Regions from separate parts of the Homo sapiens genome. Here region 1 is linked to region 2. The links come from fine-mapping of genetic effects on gene expression. Tissue or cell type: whole blood. Region 2 holds a variant in brackets; the other region holds the start of a gene. All regions are shown on one strand. Distances are from middle to middle.

Evidence for each region.
Region 1: DOCK5 starts here. The variant in region 2 is fine-mapped to the expression of DOCK5 in whole blood (TOPMed, PIP 0.93).

The regions. Positions count from the first base shown.
Region 1 is chr8:25,178,971-25,189,128 of GRCh38, reverse strand. It overlaps DOCK5 (dedicator of cytokinesis 5), which reads right to left and starts at 4,440. Exons shown (of 52, transcript NM_024940.8): 1 at 4,178-4,440. The coding sequence starts at 4,220. LOC124901912 (a long non-coding RNA gene) reads left to right here and starts at 4,752. Exons shown (of 2, transcript XR_007060861.1): 1 at 4,752-8,312; 2 at 9,085-10,158. RefSeq lists silencers at 4,143-4,192, 4,363-4,532, 4,543-4,622.
Region 2 is chr8:25,200,913-25,211,070 of GRCh38, reverse strand. All of the region lies in intron 1 of DOCK5 (dedicator of cytokinesis 5), which reads right to left. Among named protein-coding and RNA genes, the nearest start is that of DOCK5, 21 kb to the right of the region's middle. The variant G/A (reference allele first, on the strand shown) is at 5,838.

The DNA.
Region 1 (10,158 bases), 22 kb after region 2:
GGTTGCAGTGAGCTATGATCATACTGTACTCTAGTCTGGGCTGTGGAGTGAGGCCCTGTCTCAAAAAAAAAAAAAAAAAAAAGAAAGAAAGAAAGAAAAGAAAAGAAAAAAAAGCTTTGCAAAGAATCCATAGTCAACCTAATCTGGGGCTATTCTTTACATAATGGCTTGTGTGGAAGCAAACTTAAAAATAAATGTTTTTATAATCAGACTATTCTGGATATTTATCACTAATGTTTGCTTAAAAGTGTTTTATATCTTCATATGCTCAAACAGAAAAAAGAGAGAGAAAAGAGAAACAAAGAAAGAAAAAAGATGAGAAAAAAGCACATTTTCCACGTCTCCAGGGAAGAACACTTAGCCACTGAGCACTTAACACTGGGGTACTAGAGCACCATAAGTTTAAAGAATCAAATAGATCAGTCACTTCACTTGATAACACACAGAAACCATTGAGATCCACTTAATGCTAGAGCCTGAGCCAACACTGCTGTTTAAGAACTAAGAAAGCCCAGACAGGCTGCATTTCAGTCCCTGTAGAAACATCTAGGATATGTCAGGAACAGCCAAGAGTGGCACCAAGATAAAATATGACAGTAGCGACTGCCAGCTTCAGCAGGCACAATTCATACTGAGTCCAAAGCTCTATCCTCACACAGACTAGCTCTGCAGAGGCACACTCCTCTTAGAGCACAACAGGCAAAGTCATAGCTAGCTCTGAGTCATCCAAATGCTTCAACATGACTATCCTACGGTTCCTTCATCCAGAAACCAAATCTGACCAGTACACACTTAGAGAAGTCCAGAAAGCCAATTTTCCCAACTATATTTAAGAAAGTCTGTCTGCTCCATGCTTCCTTGTTTTCTCAGCAGAATATCTCATTCTCTTACTTGCAGAGATAAAGACAGAGTGGAGGCTCTCCCTTCCTCCATCTAACCAAACAAAATTCAACTCATATTGGGGTGAATGAGATGTTATGCCTAATGGGAAGAAAAAGAAGAGGAAAAAACTGCATTCAATTACCAGACAAGCTAGGTTAGTGTACTTTAGAACGGCACCCCAACATCAAGGACAAGCAAACTGAATGCACTAATACCTGGTACACCTGTTGAGTGCTAGGAATACAAAACCACAATGGTCTGATTCACTGAACCCAAGGATGGCACAGTCCAGGAACTGCGAGGAAGAAGCAAGGAGGTTTGGGACAGTCTGACAAATAGCAAATTTGAAGAAGGGAGTAGGAATGGATTTGAGCCCTCAAGGAAAGGTGAGCTGTCTGAGGCAGAGTTGGGAGGGCACTCCTGGCAGGGACAGGCACAATGGGAGCAAAGTCCCAAAGGAGGGACTCTGCAGGGTATGTTGCACAACAGTGGGAAGGGCAGTTGGTCTGCATTGGAGAGCTAGTGAAAGAAGCCTCGAGAGATAATGCTGAAGATAGGCTGAACCAGATTATAGGAACCTTGGAACGGAGGCTCAGACTTTATCCTGTTGACCACGAGAGACTTCCAAGCAGGGAGGTGACATAAACATAAGCAAGGAGGTGACAAAAACAATGAGTTTTAGCAATAAGCAATGGAGATTTCTCTCTTCAGTTAATTTATCCCAACTGTGGGTCCTTTTGTCAAACCCAGACAAACCAGAATCTATGTCTGGTGAAATAAGTGTTCAGAATTATATCCTGGAGCAGTTTCCCTAACACCTAGGCCCTGGAAATGCAATCCAAATATTTTACACACACACACACACACACACACACACACACAATTTCCACCCATATTTCCATATACATATATATATACACACACACACATATACGCATATATACATATATATGTATATACATATATACATATATGTGTGTGTATACGTGTGTGTGTGTGTGTATATATATATATACGTATATATATGTATATATAGTTTTTTTTTTGAGATCGGGTCTCACAGTATCACCCAGGCTGGAGTGCAGTGTCGTGATGGGGGCTCGGTGCACCCTCAACCTCCCAGGCTCAAGCTATCCTCCCACCTCAGCCTCCTCAGTAGCTAGAACCACAGGCACAGGCGACCATGCCCGGCTAAATTTTTTTCGTATTTATTGTAAAGACCCGTTTGCCATGTTGCTATGCTAGTTTTGAACTCCTGGGCTCAAGCAATCCTCCTGCCTCTGCCACCCAAATTGTTGGGATTACAGACGTGAGCCATCGCACCTGGCCCAAATATTTTTCTTGACTGATAAGTGACACAGTAAACTGACTCCAGAACATAAAAACAAAATATTAAAAACAATTATACTTGCTCCTAGGACTATGGCAATAAAAACCACATTTTTGAAACATGTTTGCATTAATTACCCTCAACTGAATAGTTTTGAAAAGAGCTTTTAATCCTGATAAAATTAGAGTTGATAACATTTCTGTAGTGATTGGGCATTGTAAATATGCTTTCATCTAGGGGCCAGGTGAGGTGGCTCATGACTGTAATCCCAACACTTTGGGAGGCCGAGGCAGGCGGATCACCTGAGGTCAGGAGTTTGAGACCAGCCTGGCCCAGATGGCGAAACCTGGTTTCTACTAAAAATACAAAAATTAGTCAGGTGTAGTGATGCAAGCCCGTAATCCCAGCTACTCGGGGAGGGGGGCTGAGACAGGAGAATTGCTGGAACCTAGAGGTGGAGCTTGCAGTGAGCCGAGATTGCGCCACTGCACTCCGGCCTGGGCGACAGAGTGAGACTCCCTCGTCAGTCCGTCTCAAAAACAAACAAACCAAAAAAAAAAAAAAAAAGAGCCCTGAGGCAGAAGCAACATCTCTACCCATTTCTGAGATGCAGCTAAGGGAGAGACTAAGATTCTAAAAGCAACTTAAGAGCAAAAAAGAAAATGTCTTTTGAATTGAGGGAAAACAAAAAATAATAAATATATAAAGGATCACAACCTAAGAATAATATAGTAAATATGAGACTGTTAAAAAACAAAACAAACAACAACAAAAAACCCTGACTCCTGGCTACAGAGTTGAAAAGCCCCTAGACACGTTGAGTAGCTCTTAATTGAGACTGCACTTCATTAACCAGTGAGGTGAGGAAAAACAGGACCTCAGTAAGGGAGTAAAGTCAAAGACTAAATTACAAACAGGCCAAATGAATGGATCTGAGAGGAAGTGATAAAATTCGCAACACACTCAGCCGTGTTTATTGTAGGGAATCACCCCAGGTCTAACTGCCATTGTAATCACCCCGTTCAGGGCAGAAGTCTTCCCACAGGCCCTCAATAACTTCAATCCTTGATAAAAAGCCAAAGGAGCCTGACTTTCCACCTGGGTCAAAATCCCCGCACATCTATTGTTTCGGAGCCAAAGCACCACCACCAGCAACCCCTGCGCACAACCCGGGGCTCTCCAGCACCGCTGTTCTGAATGCCAAGTGCCCAGCACGGGGTCTGGCACAGTTTCCTTAATAAAATGTCCTCTTCTCGTCTCCAGGATGAAACTCAGGATCCGGAAGGCAGCCTTACACCCTCTCCAGACAGGCTCCGTTAGGGGATGAGTGCGCACAAACAGCCCCAGGGGCCAGCCACCCCCTTCCCGTGCCACAACTTCCTGTCCCTTCCATCACTTCCACGCCACGACTCTAGTTTCCATCCAGCTCACAACTGTCATCAAGATCCCAGTCTCTGGAGGAAAGGGGGCAGGGCGGCTTTCCACCCTCAACTCCTCACTTAAGGGGCGTCTGAGAAGAACCTACGAAAGCGGGGGGCAGAAAGCACTGGGACAATGAGCACCAGTCCATGTGCCGACCCGGGCTGGTCACCTACTCCCAGGTGAAACCCACGCTGGGCGCACCGGGGCGAGCCACAGAGCTGCGGCCCCAAAAGAGCAGCAGGCGCGCCCCCCTCGCGTTGACATTTCCCTGGTGTGAAGTGCCGGAGATTGGGATGCAAGAGCGGGATTACGGTCCCGAAGCTCAGCTGCACTTGGAAGCACTCGGAGTCCCCAAACCCTGGGCGACTTCCCCATCGGCGCTCCCTGGAGAGGACTCCTACCGTCCCCGGCTCCCAGAGCTGCGCAGCCGGGCCGAGCCCCCGGCCAGGGTCCTCCGCCGGGCTCTGCGCAAACCTGGCAGGGCCGCTGTCCGCGAACTTGGCCGCGTGGGTCGGGCCGGGACAAGGTGGGGCGCGCACTCACCAACCCCGTACTTCTGCCTCTTGGTCGGGATCCAGCGGGCCATGGCGGCGACCTCGCCCCGCGGCGGCGGCGACTAAGGCTGCTACAGCTCCTCGGGCTCCGGCCGCCGCCGCCCCGCGCTCCTGCGTGCCCCAGACGCTTCCGCCATGTTCCGCCAAACTTCGCTGGACTCCGCGGGCCGCCTCCTCGCCGCGCCGCCCGCGCCCGTGCCCGTGCCCGCGCCGCCCGCGGTCACCTGCTGGGCCGGGCTGCAGCGCAGCAGTGCGCGCCCCTCCTGGCGCCGCCCCAGTCCCTCCCGCCGGCCGCACCCTCCGCCCGCCGGGGCCGCCTCCGAGCCGCGGGCGCCCGGCCTCTCCCGCCCGCGCCGCTCTCTGCGCTCTGCCGGGCGGGGGCCGACTGCGGCTCCGCCTCGCGCGCTTCCCTGGAGCGGCTTCCTGGGCCGGCGGGACTTTGACGCTGGCGGCACTTTGCCTTTCTCCCGCCCTCCCCACCCGGCTGATACCCCGGAGGCTGGGTCCCGGGGGTCCGGCTCCCGACAGAGGGCTGCGCTGGAGGAGCCGGGCACGCCCAGGCCGGGCGGCCGGTGGGCGAGGGATGCGGGCTGCGCTCCCACGGCGCGCGCCGGACACTTGGGGAGCGGAAACGGATCAGCGAGAGCGGCTTCTTGCTCGGGGCACCTCCGGTGCCTGGCACTAAGCGGGCGCGCAATAAATATTTGTTGAATGAATGAGCAGTTGACTTCTGCCTTCACCCCCTGGAGCTTGAACCCGCGCCGCGAGCGGGAGAAGCCGGACTCAGGGCAGACTGAATCTCCCGGGGCCACCGCTTAGAGCCTGGAAAGCAGAACTTTTATCACCGGAGAGCTGGTGCAAGGGAGGTGGGCTCCTCAGAAGTATCAGACCGTTTGCTAGGGGATCCTCTGCAGGGAAATTGTTTAGAAAGCCCTAATTTGGAAGTCCTGTATCCCCAAACTCCGGGGACCCCCCAACCTTAAGCTGAAGAAACTTAGACCCTCATGCCCAGACCTCCCTTTCCCAACCAGCCAGCAGCCCAGAGAGCATTCCCGTGGAGAAAGGGCCAAGGCGCATCCCCGTCTTTTCTCCGTCAACGACTGCCTTTTCTTGACGAAGATCCCAAAGGGGCTGCGCATTTGAACCGCCTTGGGCTCCAGGTGGCGCCCTCTCTGGAGCTCCCCTCTTGGAATTCATTTCTTCCTGGAGAGACTTGGAGAATGAAGATCCAGGGGTTTCTCCCTACCTTGTACCGAGAAGTAACATTGCAAGTAGAGTAAATGACCAGCTTAATTACGTTCACCTTCGAAGAAGATTCCTCTAGAGAGAAATTATATCCTCCTTGCAGCCTGTGAAGGTTTTCATGCGTTTTAGGAATATAAAAGAAAGGAAGACAAACATGTAGTAAAGATAGTAAAGACAGGTAGTTGGCCAGGCGTGGTGGCTCATGCCTGTAATCTCAGCACTTTGGGAGGCCGAGGCGGGTGGATCACCTGAGGTCACGAGTTCCAGACCAGCCTGGCCAACATGGTGAAACCCCTTCTCTACTAAAATACAAAAGTTAGCCAGACGTGCTGGTGTGCTCATGTAATCCCAGCTACCCAGGAGGCTGAGGCAGGAGAATCGCTGGAACCCGGGAGGCAGAGGCTATAAGTGAGCCGAGATCGCGCCACTGCACTCCAGCCTGGGCAACAGGGCAAAACTCCGTCTAAAAAAAAAAAAAAAAAAAAAAGACAGTAAAGATAGATAGGCAAACAAGGTAACAAGATAGTAAAGTTTCATTGGAGAATTAGTGCATTTTAACTTTGGTGGTTTTTTACCAAACGAGGTCTGAAATTTTTTTTAAGTCCTATTCACGGTGGGTAACTACTAGAGCTGGCTTTTTTTTTCTCCATCAACCAATAGGTATTTATTCACAATGTTTAACAATAATTTAAGAAATTCCTCTGTCACTTTAGACTTGACATCCAGAAAGAATTCCACCATCTTCCCTAAAATAATTTATCTTCCTCCATTAGTATATCATGATTCTAATTTCCCAGGTTAGGTAATTTCTTCTTCCTTCTTCACACACATATTAAATGCCTACACGTTAAGTGCCAGGCATCACTCTAAGAATGAGGGTGCAGCGGTGAATACAGTAGAATGTGTCCCTTCACAGAGCTTCTAGTCTAGACGGGGAGAGTAAGACAGTAAAGAAATGTACACCAAACGAGAGTAAACATTAGAGAAAAATCCAAAGCAGGGAGGATAGGGCGTGTAGGGTGCTGCTGTTTTTATGGAGTGGTCTGGGAATGCAGCTCTGCTAAGCTGAGGTTGAGGTGTAGACCTGAAGGAAGTGAAGATTCCGGGAGAAAGTATTCTGGAAAAGAGGAACAGCAAAGGCAAAGGACACCAAGCGTGTTTGGCAGGTTCCCAGGTCACCCAGAGATCCTAGGTAATGAGAGCTGAGTAACAGGTGAGAGGAAACTTGGTCTAAGAGGCAGAGGAATGCCAGATAGAGCAGAACCCTGGCAGGCATATGGACTTTATATATTACTACTACAAGCGAGGTTTGGAGGGCTTTGAGCCAACCTGGAACATATTGAACTTGCCTGCTGTGGTATGAATCCATTGTAAAGGGGCAAGGGAGGCCCACATGGATGGATGTTGGGGGCTATTTCAGTCATTCAGGCAAGACATGAAGGTAGTTGGGTCCAGGAGGATAAGGATGGAGGTGAAAAAGATGTTGGGTTCTTGACATACGTGAAAATAGAGCCTGGCCAGATGTGGTGGCTCACACCTGTAATCCCAGCATTTTGGGAGGCTGAGGTGGGAGGATTGCTTAAGGTCAGGAGTTCAAAATCAGCCTGGACAACATAGTGAGACCCTCCTCTACTATATATATATCCTGGGCATGGTGGCTGTGCCTGTGGCCCTATCTACTCAGGAGACTGAGGTGGGAGGATTGCTTGAGCCCAGGAGGTCGAGGCTAGCAGTGAGCTATGATTGCATCACAGCATGAAAAAGAACCAAGAGGAGGGCCACATGAACGGCAGGGGGATCTACTACTGTGAGGCTTCAATCTTTTTTGGAAAGTTTTCCCCCAGAAAGAGATATGCTTGTATTTTTCTTTTTTTTTTTAAAGAGCCCTACCCGTATCGTACACCCTTCAGGCCCCACACACCTTGGTTCTTGTCCCTGCATGTGAGATACAAGCTGGGTCAAGAATGACTCTAAAGCCAGCTAGGTCGCACATGCCTGTAGTCCCAGCTGCTAGGGAGGCTGAGGCAAGAGGATTGCTTGAGCCCAGGAGTTCCAGGCTGCAGTGAGCTATGCTGATCAGGTGTCTGCACTAAGTTCCGCATCAATATAGTGACATCCTGGGAGCAGGCGACCACCAGGTTGCCTAAGGAGGGGTGAACTGGTCCAGGTCAGAAATGGAGCGGGTCAATTATTTGGAAAGCCCTAATTTGGAAGTCCTATATCCCAAAACTTCGGTACTCCTCCTTAGCTGAAGAAATTCAGGCCCACATATCCAGGGGGAAATCTACCCCAAGACCTCCCTTTTCCAACCAGCCAGCAGCCCAGAGAGCATCCCTGTGTAGAAAGCAACTGGATGCATCCTTGTCTTTTCTCTGTCACTGACTGCATTATTGACAAAGATCCCGTAGCCGGGACTTCACATTTGAACTGCCTCAGGCTCCAGGTGGCACCCTCTCTTGAGCTCCCCTTCTGATCAATAATGGGATGGCACCTGTGAATTGGCACTGCATTTCAGCTTGGACAACATAGCAAGACCCTGTCTCTAAACAAATATTAATTCAAAACAAAAAGAGTGACTCTAAGGTTTGGGGCTTGAATAGCAAGGGAGTAGAGTTGCCATTGTCTTGGTCACCATTTATATCTATCTTGTCTTCACCCTTTCCTGTCCCAGTTGCTCTGTATCAAAGTTTTCCTTTCAATATTTCTTTAGGACCCACTTCTTCACGCCTTCCTCAGCAACTTCTCCATGTGGCCCCTTAGGAGCTAAAGCGCTCTGCACTGGATTATATGACTTGCCTGTTGTGGACTCAGGGCTTCTCAAAGTTACATGAATTCTCCGTGCTTAGGGAAATTGGATGACCTCTGTTCTCTGACCAAAGGTATATTTCAAATGTACCATACATCAGAATGTTAATGCTCTTATCCAGTGGAACTGGGTTTCTACCAAAGCGATTTCAACTGCCTCATCCCACTTTTGCATTGAAGTCTTCTTCTTCCAAAACTAGAGGTTTGAATTTGGGTGCCAGAGATTTCAAATTTGACAATGGCTTTAAGAGAGTTGGAGGAAAATGGAAAATTTTAATTACAGCTTTCAGTATGTTTATCATTTCCTTTTGAAAACTGAAATCCACTCACTTTGCTATATCAGATGGCTAAATCCTAGTGTGAATGTCCTTTTAAATCATAAAAGCAGAGCTTTTCAAAGTCTTTTATTAGAATGAGGCTTAAAATTAGACAGTTAACCAGACAGGCAGTTGGAATGACAGCGTGATGCCCAGAAATACCCTTTTTTTTTCCTCTGATATCTTTTCAGAAGAAACATTAAGCATATTCCACAGAGATCTTCAGACTCCAAAACCCACACAAATACAAACACACTTAAGCACGCACAGACACTCACAGGCTCTGCTTGAAGGAGCCATGGAGAAAGAAATGAGGGTAAGTGGCTTTGAGGGTTAGTTTGACATGAGTATTGTGACTAACCCTTACAATGCCTTAGAGAATAAATGGACAGGATGTGAAGAGAACTGGCAAGAGCCTCACCTCCCTGTTGATTACCAGGCTTGTTTTTGCCAAATCAGGCTGGTCTGATGGCTTCTCTATGAGATGCTGTGGAGTCGTTTAAAGTGTCTTTTTTCTCTCTCTCTCTAGATAAAAGAAGATTATTCTGTGATCCTATACGAGTCAGTGGCTAATGGAACTACCAAAAAAATGATAACAATGCAAATAATGTAATTGGTTCTAAGCAGTGCTTTGCAGGCTCCTAAGGATGGTTCTAAGTAAGCCAGGAGTAGGTGATACATTGTAATTCTGGGACCCATGAGCTTAGCAGGACAAAGGAAACCATGAATCACCCTAGTCCCAGAAGTACCTTTTCATAGGCCCCAGGGATTCCAACATCATTATTCACTCTCCACTCTGCAAGTGACTTAGGTCGTGAGCATCTCTGAGTCTGCACAGGCTCTGCCATGTGGCTGTGGGGGTCCGGCTTCTCTGATGGATGGGAAGATAATGCTCGGGGCTCCAATGCTATTATCTCCTCATCTCTGTCACAAGGAGATTTATACTTATGATTTACCCTTTTCATGAACATGGGAAAATTCTTTTTTCTAGTGTTGTTTCTGGAATGTTCTTTGCTGTGTCTAAATGAGCTGATTCCACTGTTGGGAGAGGTGGATGATGTGAGCAGTAAGAAGGCATTAGTTTCTTGAAAACTAGATCCATATTTAGGTGAGATGAAATCAAACTACCTGATTTTAAAAAAAACAAACTATGTTTATTTACCGTATGTCTTGATTCCTATATACATTGAAAAATTATATTCATAAAACTGTTTAAAATAAGAGATGATGGGCTGGACGCAGTGGCTCATGCCTGTAATCTCAGCACTTTGGGAGGCCAAGGCGGGCAGATCACTTGGGCCCAGGAGTTCGAGACCAGGCTGGGCAACACGGCAAAACCCTGTTTCTACAAAAAATGCAAAAATTACCAGGGTGTGGTGGTGTGTGTCTGTAGTATCAGCTACTCAGGAAGCTGAGGTAGGAGGATTCCTTGAGCCCAGGAGGTGGAGGTTACAGTGAGCTGATGTGGCACCATTGCATTCCAGCCTAGGTGACAGGGGGACCCTGTTCCCCCTGCCAAAAAAAAAAAAAAAAAAAAAAAAGAACAAAAAGAGAGATGATGAAAACTTAGAAGAAATGTGGAAAATGTATAATGTAGGCATAA
Region 2 (10,158 bases):
TCTTATTAAAGCAGCCCATTGCTGGTAATGAACCAAGCCTATGAAATGAATGGGTGGCTTATCAATAACCATTATTATTAGATGTCATTTGAGTACAGATAATTGTGTTTCCAGTAGACAAAGAACTACCCCAACCTCAGCTCTGCCAGTCTCTCAACCTGTCTCCCACCTCTCCCTCCTCCCTTCCCCCTCCCCTCATTCAGCTCCAGGAACATTGGCACTTTCCACTGCTCCTTAACTGTGCCACATCTTCTGCCTAGAATGTTCTTACTTTAGATTTGCATGGCTCAGTCCCTCTTTTTTGTTTTGGAGACAGTCTTGATCTGTCGCCTAGGCTGGAGTGCAGTGGTGCCACCTCAGCTCACTGCAACCTCTGCCTCCCAGGCTCAAGCAATTCTCATGCCTCAGCCTCCCAAGTAGCTGGGATTACAGGCATGTGTCACCACACTTGGCTAATTTTTGTATTTTTCAGTAGAGATGGGGTTTCTCCATGTTGGGCAGGCTTGTCTTGAACTCTTGGCCTCAACTGATCCATCCACCTTGGCCTCCCAAAATGCTGGGATGACAGGTGTGAGCCACAGCGCCCGGTCCCAATCCCTCTTTTATTCACATCTTTTCCCACATATCCCCTCCACAGAGCCGTTATCTGACCATCCCAACTCGACAACAGCACCTCACCCCATCACTGTCTATGGCATCACTGTGCTTCATCAATATTTTCAAAGCCCTGATCACTGACATCATGCTATACATACTGTGCATTTGCTGTCTGTTTCTTCCCGCTTAGAATGCACACATCAAGAGGTTATAGAGGGCCAGATGCAGTGTCTCATGCCTGTAATCTCAGCACTTTGGGAGCCCAAGGCAGGAGGATCGCTTGAGGCCAAGAGTTCAAGACTAGCCTGGACAAAATAGCAAGGCCCCATCTCTACTCGATAGATAGATAGATAGATAGATAGATAGATAGATAGATAGATAGATAGATAGATAAATAGACAGATACACACACACACACACACACACACACACACACATTTATATATATATATATATATATATATAATTAGCCGGGGATGGTGGCATGTGCCTGTAGTCCCAGCAGCTCAAGAGACTGAGGGGGGAGGATCATGGCGCCACTGCACTCTAGGCAACAGAGCGAGGCTGAGACCCTGTCTCTAATGAAAAAGAAGTATGGTGTCTTTTGAGGAAAACACAGGAGGCTCCCATGTTGCTTGCGCCTTCTGCACGAAATGCTGGCAGGGCAGGCTTGCCTCTTGTTGAGAGTAGAAGTGAGAGCCCAGCTGACATTCTAGGTTCCTTCCAAGATCCAAAGTCTCAGAAAAATGCAATTGTAGAGATACAAAAAAAGTTCAGACATCATCTCATGCAAGACTTCTTCTTAAGCTGGGATCCTTGAGTCCCCAAAGATTTCTAAACTTCCTAAAGTTGTATGTGAAATGTCATCGACAGACATATGCACCATTTTCTGTGGAAAGAATCCACAGCTTTCATTACAGTCTCAAAGGAGCTTTATTTCTCAAAAAGTTAAAATCCTCTTGGCATCATCCTTCATTATAGATGAAGAAGCAACTTCTGGAAGGTCAAATAGCTGGTTAGTGGCAGAGTTTGAAGCAGAATTCACATGTGCTGATTTCTAAGCGGTCTCTTGCCTCCACCCCGCTCCCTCACAATGTTCGCTTATTGAAAGGAAGCATCCTTCCCTGGCACTGCCAGACTGGCATCCTGGACCACTGGGCTCCCAGAGTAGCGACCTCATTGTGTGTCTGCCTGAGCCTCGGGCAAGACCCGCCATGCATGACTTTCCCCTTCCTAACAATTTAATTATTCACGAACTTGCGTGTGGTGAGAACATCAGACAGGGATGACGGCGCTAATGTGCTCTGAGCCTCCTTCAAATGGCATTTCATACTAGAGCAGTGCACCCGCGGCATCTTCACAGACCCTCCCTCACCAGATGCCCTCAGCAGATAAAGAACTCATTTTCCTTTCCCTGCTGCTAATGGCTCCAATTTTCTTGTGATTTTCTGTAATGGTAAATGCCAACAAAACATCACCCCACCACATGTTCCTACTGGCTATTCTTTCAACATCATGAATTCCAAACCAGCTCTGCTGGAATGAAAAAGAATGAAAAAATAATATTCACAAGTCATTTGGGAGGAGTGCAGGGAGGGAGGGAAGGCAAAGAAATGAAGGTCATGGGCATATTTTAACCTCAATCAGAAGCAAGTGATTTGTCCTCTATTCTTAAGAAATTTGCTATATAGGCATACCTAGGAGATACTGTGGATTTGGTTCCAGACTGTGCAATAAAGCAAATATTGCAGTAAAGCCAATCACACAAATTTTTCGGTTCCCCTGTGCCTATAAAAGTTATGTTTACACTACAGTCAATTAAGTGTGTAATAGCATTATGTCTAAAAAATGTACAGACCTTAATTTGAAAATATTTTATTGCTAAAAAAATGCATATGATCATCTGAGCCTTCAAGGACTCTTAATTTTTTGGCTGGTGAAGGGTCTTGCTTTGATATTGATAGCAGCTCATGGATCAGGGTGGCAGTTGCTGAAGACTGGGGCAGCTGTGGCAATTTCTTAAAATAAGACAGCAATTAAGTTTGCCAGATCAATTGATACTTCCTTTCATGAAATATTTCTCTATAGCATGTGATGCTATTTGATAGCATTTCATAGTATTTCACCCACAGTATAACTTCTTTCAAATTTGGAGTCAATCCTCTCAAACCTTTCCACTGCTTTGTCAACAAGTTTATGGATTATTCTAAATCCTTGGTTGTCAACAATGTTCACAGCATCTTCACCAAGATAGAGTCCATCTCAAGAAACCACTTTCTTTGCTCATTCATAAAAAGTAACTCTTCTCTGCTCAAGTTTTATCAAGAGATTGCAGCAATTCTCACATCTTCAGGCTCCACTTCTAATTCTAGTGCTCTTGCTATTTCCACAACATCTGCAGGGACATCCTTCACTGAAGTTTTGAACCCCTCAAAGTCATCCATGAGAATTGGAATCAATTTCTTCCACACTCCTACTAATATTGATATTTTGACCTCCTCCCATGAAACATCAATATTCTTAGTGGCATTTAGAATGGGGAATCCTTTCCAGAAGGTTTTTAATGTACTACACCTAGAACCATCAGCGTAATCACTATTTATGGCAGCCACCATTTCATGAAATGTATTCTTTTAAATAATCAGACTTGAAAGTCAAAATTATCCCTTGATCCATGGGCTGCAGTATTCATGTTGTGTCAGCAGGCATGAAAACATTAATCTCCTTGTCCATCTCCATCTAAGCTCTTGGGTGACCTGGTGCATTGTCAATGGGCAGTAATATTTTGAATCAAGGAATCTTCTTTTTCTCAGCTGTAGGTCTCAACAGTAGGCTTAAAATAGTCAGTAAACCATGCTGTCAACAGATGTACTGTCATCCAGACTTTGCTGTTCCATTTATAGAGCACAGGCAGAGTAGATTTAGCATAATTGTTAAGGGCCCTCAGATTTTTCAGAATGGTGAAAGAGCACTGGTTTCAATTTAAAGTCACCAGCTGCATTAGCCCCTAACAAGAGGGTCAGCCTATCCTTTGATGCCCGTCACTGACTTCTCCTCTCTAGCTATGAAAGTACTAGACAGCATCTTCTTACAATAGAAGGCTATTTCATCTACACTTAAAATATGTTGTTAGTGTAGCCACTTTCATCAATATCTTCACTAGATCTTCTGGATAACTTGCCACAGCTTCTATATCAGCACTTGCTGCCTCACCTTGCACTTCTATGCTATGGCAATGGCTTCTTTTATTAAACTTCTTTCATCAAACTTCATGAACCATTGCTTTATTGATCGACCATGAATCTTATGGTCGATCAATAAAGTGATGTGCTATATAGAAGGAGGTATGTCTGCATTCATAGAAAGCTCTGCAAAGTACCCTGAGTTGCCACATAAACTTCTTCAGTGATGCCACGGTATTGCAAGGAACAGAGACTCACTCAAATTGCCTCAGAAAAGGGATGTTTTAGACCTGGACTTGGAAAGCTGCTAAGAACAGGGGCCACTCTAGGGCTGTAGGGTCTCTCCACATCTGCTCCCCTCTCTCTATCAATCAGCTTTTTCAGTTTCCTTGTGGTTTCCATTCACAACATTGGCTTCCACATGGCTTCAGGTTGCCACCAACTCAACTCCCAAACGACATCCTTTTAGCTTTTGCCCCTGTGGCAAAACATATTGGTATTTCCTCATTCAAATTCCCAAGAGAAGGAACCTGATTGAGTACTTACTTCTTTGCGTCAAACCATATGTCATTGTCCAGGCTACGGAATGGCCTCTAGGTAGTGTGTCCATCCAGGGACAATCAGTGATGGCCACAGGAATCTTAGATGGTGTAAAACGAGGCTACCTAGGCCTTCCCTGGGTCTTCTATCCAGGCTGTGGGCAGGCAGGTACTGTAACTATTTGTCATGTAGGAACTAGCCCAGGTTTTTCACAGAATACTGGAGCAAACTTGTACTAGTTTGGAAGGGCCAACTGTTACATTTTCAGGAATTTTCAGGAATTCTGTGAGCTATCTCTTAATCCACTGCTGGTCTGAAATTGGCCACTGTGGGAGTATTTACACCACAGATATTGGTGAATGCTACAAACTCAAGTTTTTTCCTCCCACTCTACAGAGCTAGTTTACCAGCACACTATTGCAGCATGAATGGTTAAAGAGGAAGAAAAAAAATCAAGGTAAACAAGTCTCCCCATAATCTGACAAAATCTATATCATTTCCCTCTTTTCCACTTTACCCACCCTTTGCTTCAGCAAGAATGGACAACTTCCTCATTATCCACTTGCCACAAATAACTGCGTTAGGGCCAGGGCTCACGCTGTGCCAGGTCCCCAGCCTTCCCAAACCTGATGTCCATCTCTATAAAGTTCAACTACTTCCCTGAAGCTTCCTCAACTCCCTCAATTAGAATAATCTCTGCTTCTCTAAACTCCAATAACCCCAACTGGACTTTTTTTGCAACTTTTTTCATGTTCAGCCTTCCTTTCCCTGGAGTTATTTATGGCTTTATACTTGGGGTCTTTTAATTCATTATAAACTTCCCACAAACAGAATCTATGTCCACTTCTCTTAAGTGTTAGGAGAAGTATCAATTAAGTGTGCAATGGCATTATCTCTGAGTATTCCAAGTGCTAAGTGCATACCTCCTACTCAGATACCTGGTGAATCGGTGAAGATGAACACAGCATTTATTTGCACAAGTCTTCAGTAACCCATGTCTCTCTCCCCTTCCCACACCTACAATTCTAGACCTGCAAACTCATGAGTTCACCAGCTGATTTGGGCCCTGACAACTGAATCAGCAACAGCAGGATTTTCAAGGCCAGAAGGCTGCTAAAGGCATGTATCTGATGTGCATGTGAATTACTTTCACTAGATTCAAATCCCTGTAAAAGAGGAGGGAAAAATCTAGGATTAAACTACAGAGATTGAACTTTGATCTGGCAACAGTGGACTCGTATTTCAAATAACACGCAACTCCCTGTGTCTCAGTCAGCTTAGGCTGCCATAACAAAATACCACACACCATGTGGCTTAAATAACAGAAATGTGTTTTCTAACAGCTCTGGGGGCTGGAAGTCCAAGATCAAGTTACCATCATGGTCAGTTTCCGGTGAGGGCTCTCTTCCCGGCTTATAGGTGGCCACCCTCTCATTGTATCCTCACATAGCATAGAGAGAGAAAGAGAAAGACAGAAAGAGAGAGACAGAGGGAGAGAGAGTGAGAGACAGCAAGAGC[G/A]AGAGAGAGGGAGAGCGCTCTCCACATAAAAGAAGAGACCAGGCACAGGGGCTGACACCTGTAATCCAAGCATTTTGGGAGGCTGAGGTGGGAGGATTGCTTGAGGCCAGGAGTTCAAGACCAACCTGGCCAACATAATGAGACCCTGTCTGTACTTTAATTAACTTTTTAATAAAAGACATTTTTAAAAATAATTTTTTTTAAAAAAAGCACTAATCCCCTCATGAGGGCCCCACCATGAACTCATCTAAACCTAATTATCTCCCAGGACCCATCTCCAAATACCATCACACTAGGGGCTGAGGCTTCAACATAGGAATTTGTGAGGGACATAATTCAGTCCATAGCACTCTGTTAAAATCAATCTTCCTTTAAATACTTTGGGAAAGACGACTGAGAGATTTGGGGAAATCTGAGAAGTGGAAACCAGATGAAAAAGATCACAAGTTCAGCCTCAGGGAGAGAAAATTAGTTCTTCCTATTAACGTATGACTTAGCCAGTCTGAAGAGTATATGAAAGCCGCCAAGAAGTTAGAAGAAAGACTACTGGATTACCATCGGCATGTGAAGAAAATTTGGCCATAAAGTAATGGGGTTCTTTGCACCAAACCTTTGTAGACAAAGTTTCCTCAGTAAGTCTTCAGGCAGAAAGTTCAATGGCATGTCAACTTTAGATCCTAGCAGTTTTTAGTCCATTAATGTGGCCTAACAGGCATCGCTTAATTCATTTGCAGAAATTTTCAACAACTGAAAATTCATCACACTCTGAGAATCTAGAAGGTAATAGAAAATATTATCTCTGTTTTGCAGATGGAAAAACTAAGCTAAAGAGAGTCAAGCCACTTGGTCACTCCTGTAACAGAGACTGAAATACAAACCCAACTTCCTAATCCTGGGATCAATACTTCTGTTAGTTTCACTCCATGCACTATCCCCCAAAAACCTAAATGCCCCTAAAATTTTAAAAAATTTCTTGTATTAAAAAGTTAAAGTACAGACAGGGTCTCATTATGTTGTATCGACTATGAAGTCGATAATTCCTGAAGTTACTTCTATGAAGTCTATAATTCATCCAAACACATGCTATTAAAAAAATTGGCAAAGAATTCTCAGAACTGAGGCAGATAAATGAACATGGTATAAGTAACTATTTCTGCAAGAAAAACAAACAAACCCTCTAATCTTCCAAAAGTATAAAATCCTGTCACTCAAGGCTGCTGATAAAAGCAAGAAGATAAAGACATCTAAGACGAAAGAACACGTTTCATTTTAGATATTTCTATTTCCTCCATCTGTATTTGTTGAGGAGCAATTTTAGGAAGGCAGGATCACTGAGATGCTGTACTTTTCCTAAGGTTTTACAACTGTTAGCTAATGCCTCCACAACATGGGATTTTGTACCTCAAGTCCTAAAAGACATTAAACCAAAAGTAAAGAGAGGCGAAAAAAGGCAAATAAAAGAAAAAATCACTATGTCCATATGTCCTCCCTGACAGATTCCAATCTGATCTTTAAAATTGAGTCTTTTGGGCCACAAATGAGAGGCTCTCTCTTTTCCTGGTCTAAAATCTATCCCCATGCCACCACATTGTATCAGAATCGAAATGTCACCAGAGGAGAGTGATACAGGGTTTGCTTCACGGAGTGAGCTATTTGTTTTTGAAATAAGTCATGTTGTCAGAATCGGAACTGAGCAAGTATACCCATTTCTCATTCAGGAAAGAAAATATAAGACGGATTCAAAATTTCCAAGGCTCTTGGCTTAGATCACAGCTCAAACATGAAAAGAATTCTTCTGTAGCCTCAAACTATTTCTGAATTTGTGAGCTTACCAGTGGACCTCCCTGAAGCTATCAAACAATTTGAAAACAATCTTGAGCAGCAAATCTAATTCCGCCAAAGATAAACTGGATGCCACCCTCTGCCAAGCCATGTAAGGATCTTCTGAAAAATGACTCCAGTATATTCTATATGCAAGCAACTCTTTAATTCAAGAAGACATCAGCCTTCTTTGAGGCAGGCTTTCAGGCACATAAGATAGTCATTCAGGATTCTGTCATCAGTGGATTCCTATCCTCATATTCTATGATGATCTGGGTGTTAAGACCAGAAATGGCTGGCCAAGAGCTACTGGTCACACATCCATGAATTCATGACACTGGAGATGTATTTGGTAGCACTCTTATCAAGCTAAAGAAAAGGAAAGCAGCCATTATGAATCCCTGCCTACTGCTTCTATGTGTGTTTCTATAGACTCTTTATCTTACACAGTAGTCTCCTAGTGTCCCCTGTGTCACCTTCTGTGGCTTCAGGTACTCAAGGTCCAAAAATATTAAATAAAAAAATTCAAAAACAAACTGCCGGGGTATTGCAGTGCTGGTGTTCAAGTCACCCTTATTTTACTTAATCATGGCCCCAAAGTGCAAGAGTGGTAATACTGGCATATTGTGTTGATTGTTCTTTTTTATTATTAGTTATTGTTGATAACCTCTTACTGTGCCTAATTTAGAAATTCAGCTTTATCATAAATATATTTGTATAGAAGCAGCATTGTATATACAAGCTTGGGTACTATCCGTGGTTTCAAGCATGCCTTGAGGATAAGGCGGGACTACTGTGTGATCCTCACCACCATCCAGCCCAGCAAGACCCTGGAACATAAAAGGTGCTCAGTGAACATGGGCTTCCTCAGAACAGTGAGGTGGGTTAGCCACAGTAAGGGGATTCACACGCAAGGTGGCGTGACTCAAAACATTTCCGTTAGTTTGTTGTGTGTGAATTCATTCATTCATCCATTCCTCTTAGGATTCCAGGCTGTTCTAAGCCAGTGAGTGAGTACCACCCCAAAAGCACAGGATCAGAAGAAAGTAACAGTCCCATCACCCAGAGATCCCTGGGAATTCAAATATTTTCCAGGGGTGGGTGCGGTGGCTCACACCTGTAATGCCAACAGTTTGGGAGGCCGAGGCAGGTGGATCGCTTGAGGACAGGAGTTCGAGACCAGCCTGGCCAACATGGCAAAACCCTATCTCTTCTAAAAATACAAAAATTAGCTGGGGGTGGTGGTGCATGCCTGTAGTCACAGCTACTTGGGGAGGCTGAGGCAGGAGAATCGCGTGAACCCGGGAGGCAGAGATTGCAGTGAGCCACGATTGTGCCACTGCGCTCCAGCCTGGGTGACAGAGCGAGACTCTGTCTCAAAGAGAAGAAAAAAATATATATATATATGTTTTTTTCCCAGGAAGATTCTTGCAAGATAAGGCCATTTCTGGCCATAAGGCTCTAAAATCAAAAATATACTCAAATCTATTCTGAACTTTGAGGACAGGTTCTGAGCCAACCAGTATTAACTACTTGGTAATCAGCCCCACTCTGCAAACAAAGGCACCTGATTGCCAGGCTAGGGTACTGTCAGGGAGGCTGCGACTGAGCAAACTTTCAGATAGCTATCACGTACTGCCCACTGTACCAGGAAGTGTGCTAATCTTATTCCTTCCGTCTTACTTGACTTAGAGCCTTATATGACTTCACAAGGTAAAGAGTAATAAAAGTTAGGAGACTTGGACTTCAAAAATCCCAGCCACAAGCAACTACTCTCCAAAACCTCACTCTGCAGCCAATGGCTCTTGCATCCACCTTGACGATTCTGATTTCAAGCATGGCTTGGCTGCCCGGCTCCACAGCCTGCAGGACTAAAGGTAGTAATCAGCGTTCTAAAGTTAGCTTAACCTGTTGCCCTAAACAAGTCAACATCTGTATCTCAATCTTCTTCAGTAACTCAAACATATTTTTTAAAAGGCATGTAATGTTAGTGATACTGTTAGACTATAGAAATAATTGTATATAAATGTTCTCTTTCACTATTGAAATACTTTGTTTTATGTAATGCTACTAGTGTTTTGTATGTCATGGGACTAAATATTACCTTATCAAAATAATACAATTACATCATACTTTATTGTCTTCAAACAGAGAGAGGAGACGAAGCCTGAGGCTAATGGTTTATTCACCATGAAATAGCCATTTAGGCCGGCCACAGTGGCTCACGCCTGTAATCCCAGCATTTTGGGAGGCCGAGGTGGGCGGATCACCTGAGGTCAGGAGTTTGAGACCAGCCTGACCAAAATGGTGAAACCCTGTCTCTACTAAAAATTCAAAAATTAGCCGGGCATGGTGGCATGCACCTGTAATCCCAGCTACTCAGGAGGCTGAGGCAGAAGAATTGTTTGAACCCAGGAGGCGGAGGTTGCAGTGAGCCGAGATTGCACCACTGCACTCCAGCCTAAGTGACAAAGCAAGACTCCATCTCAAACAAAAAAAG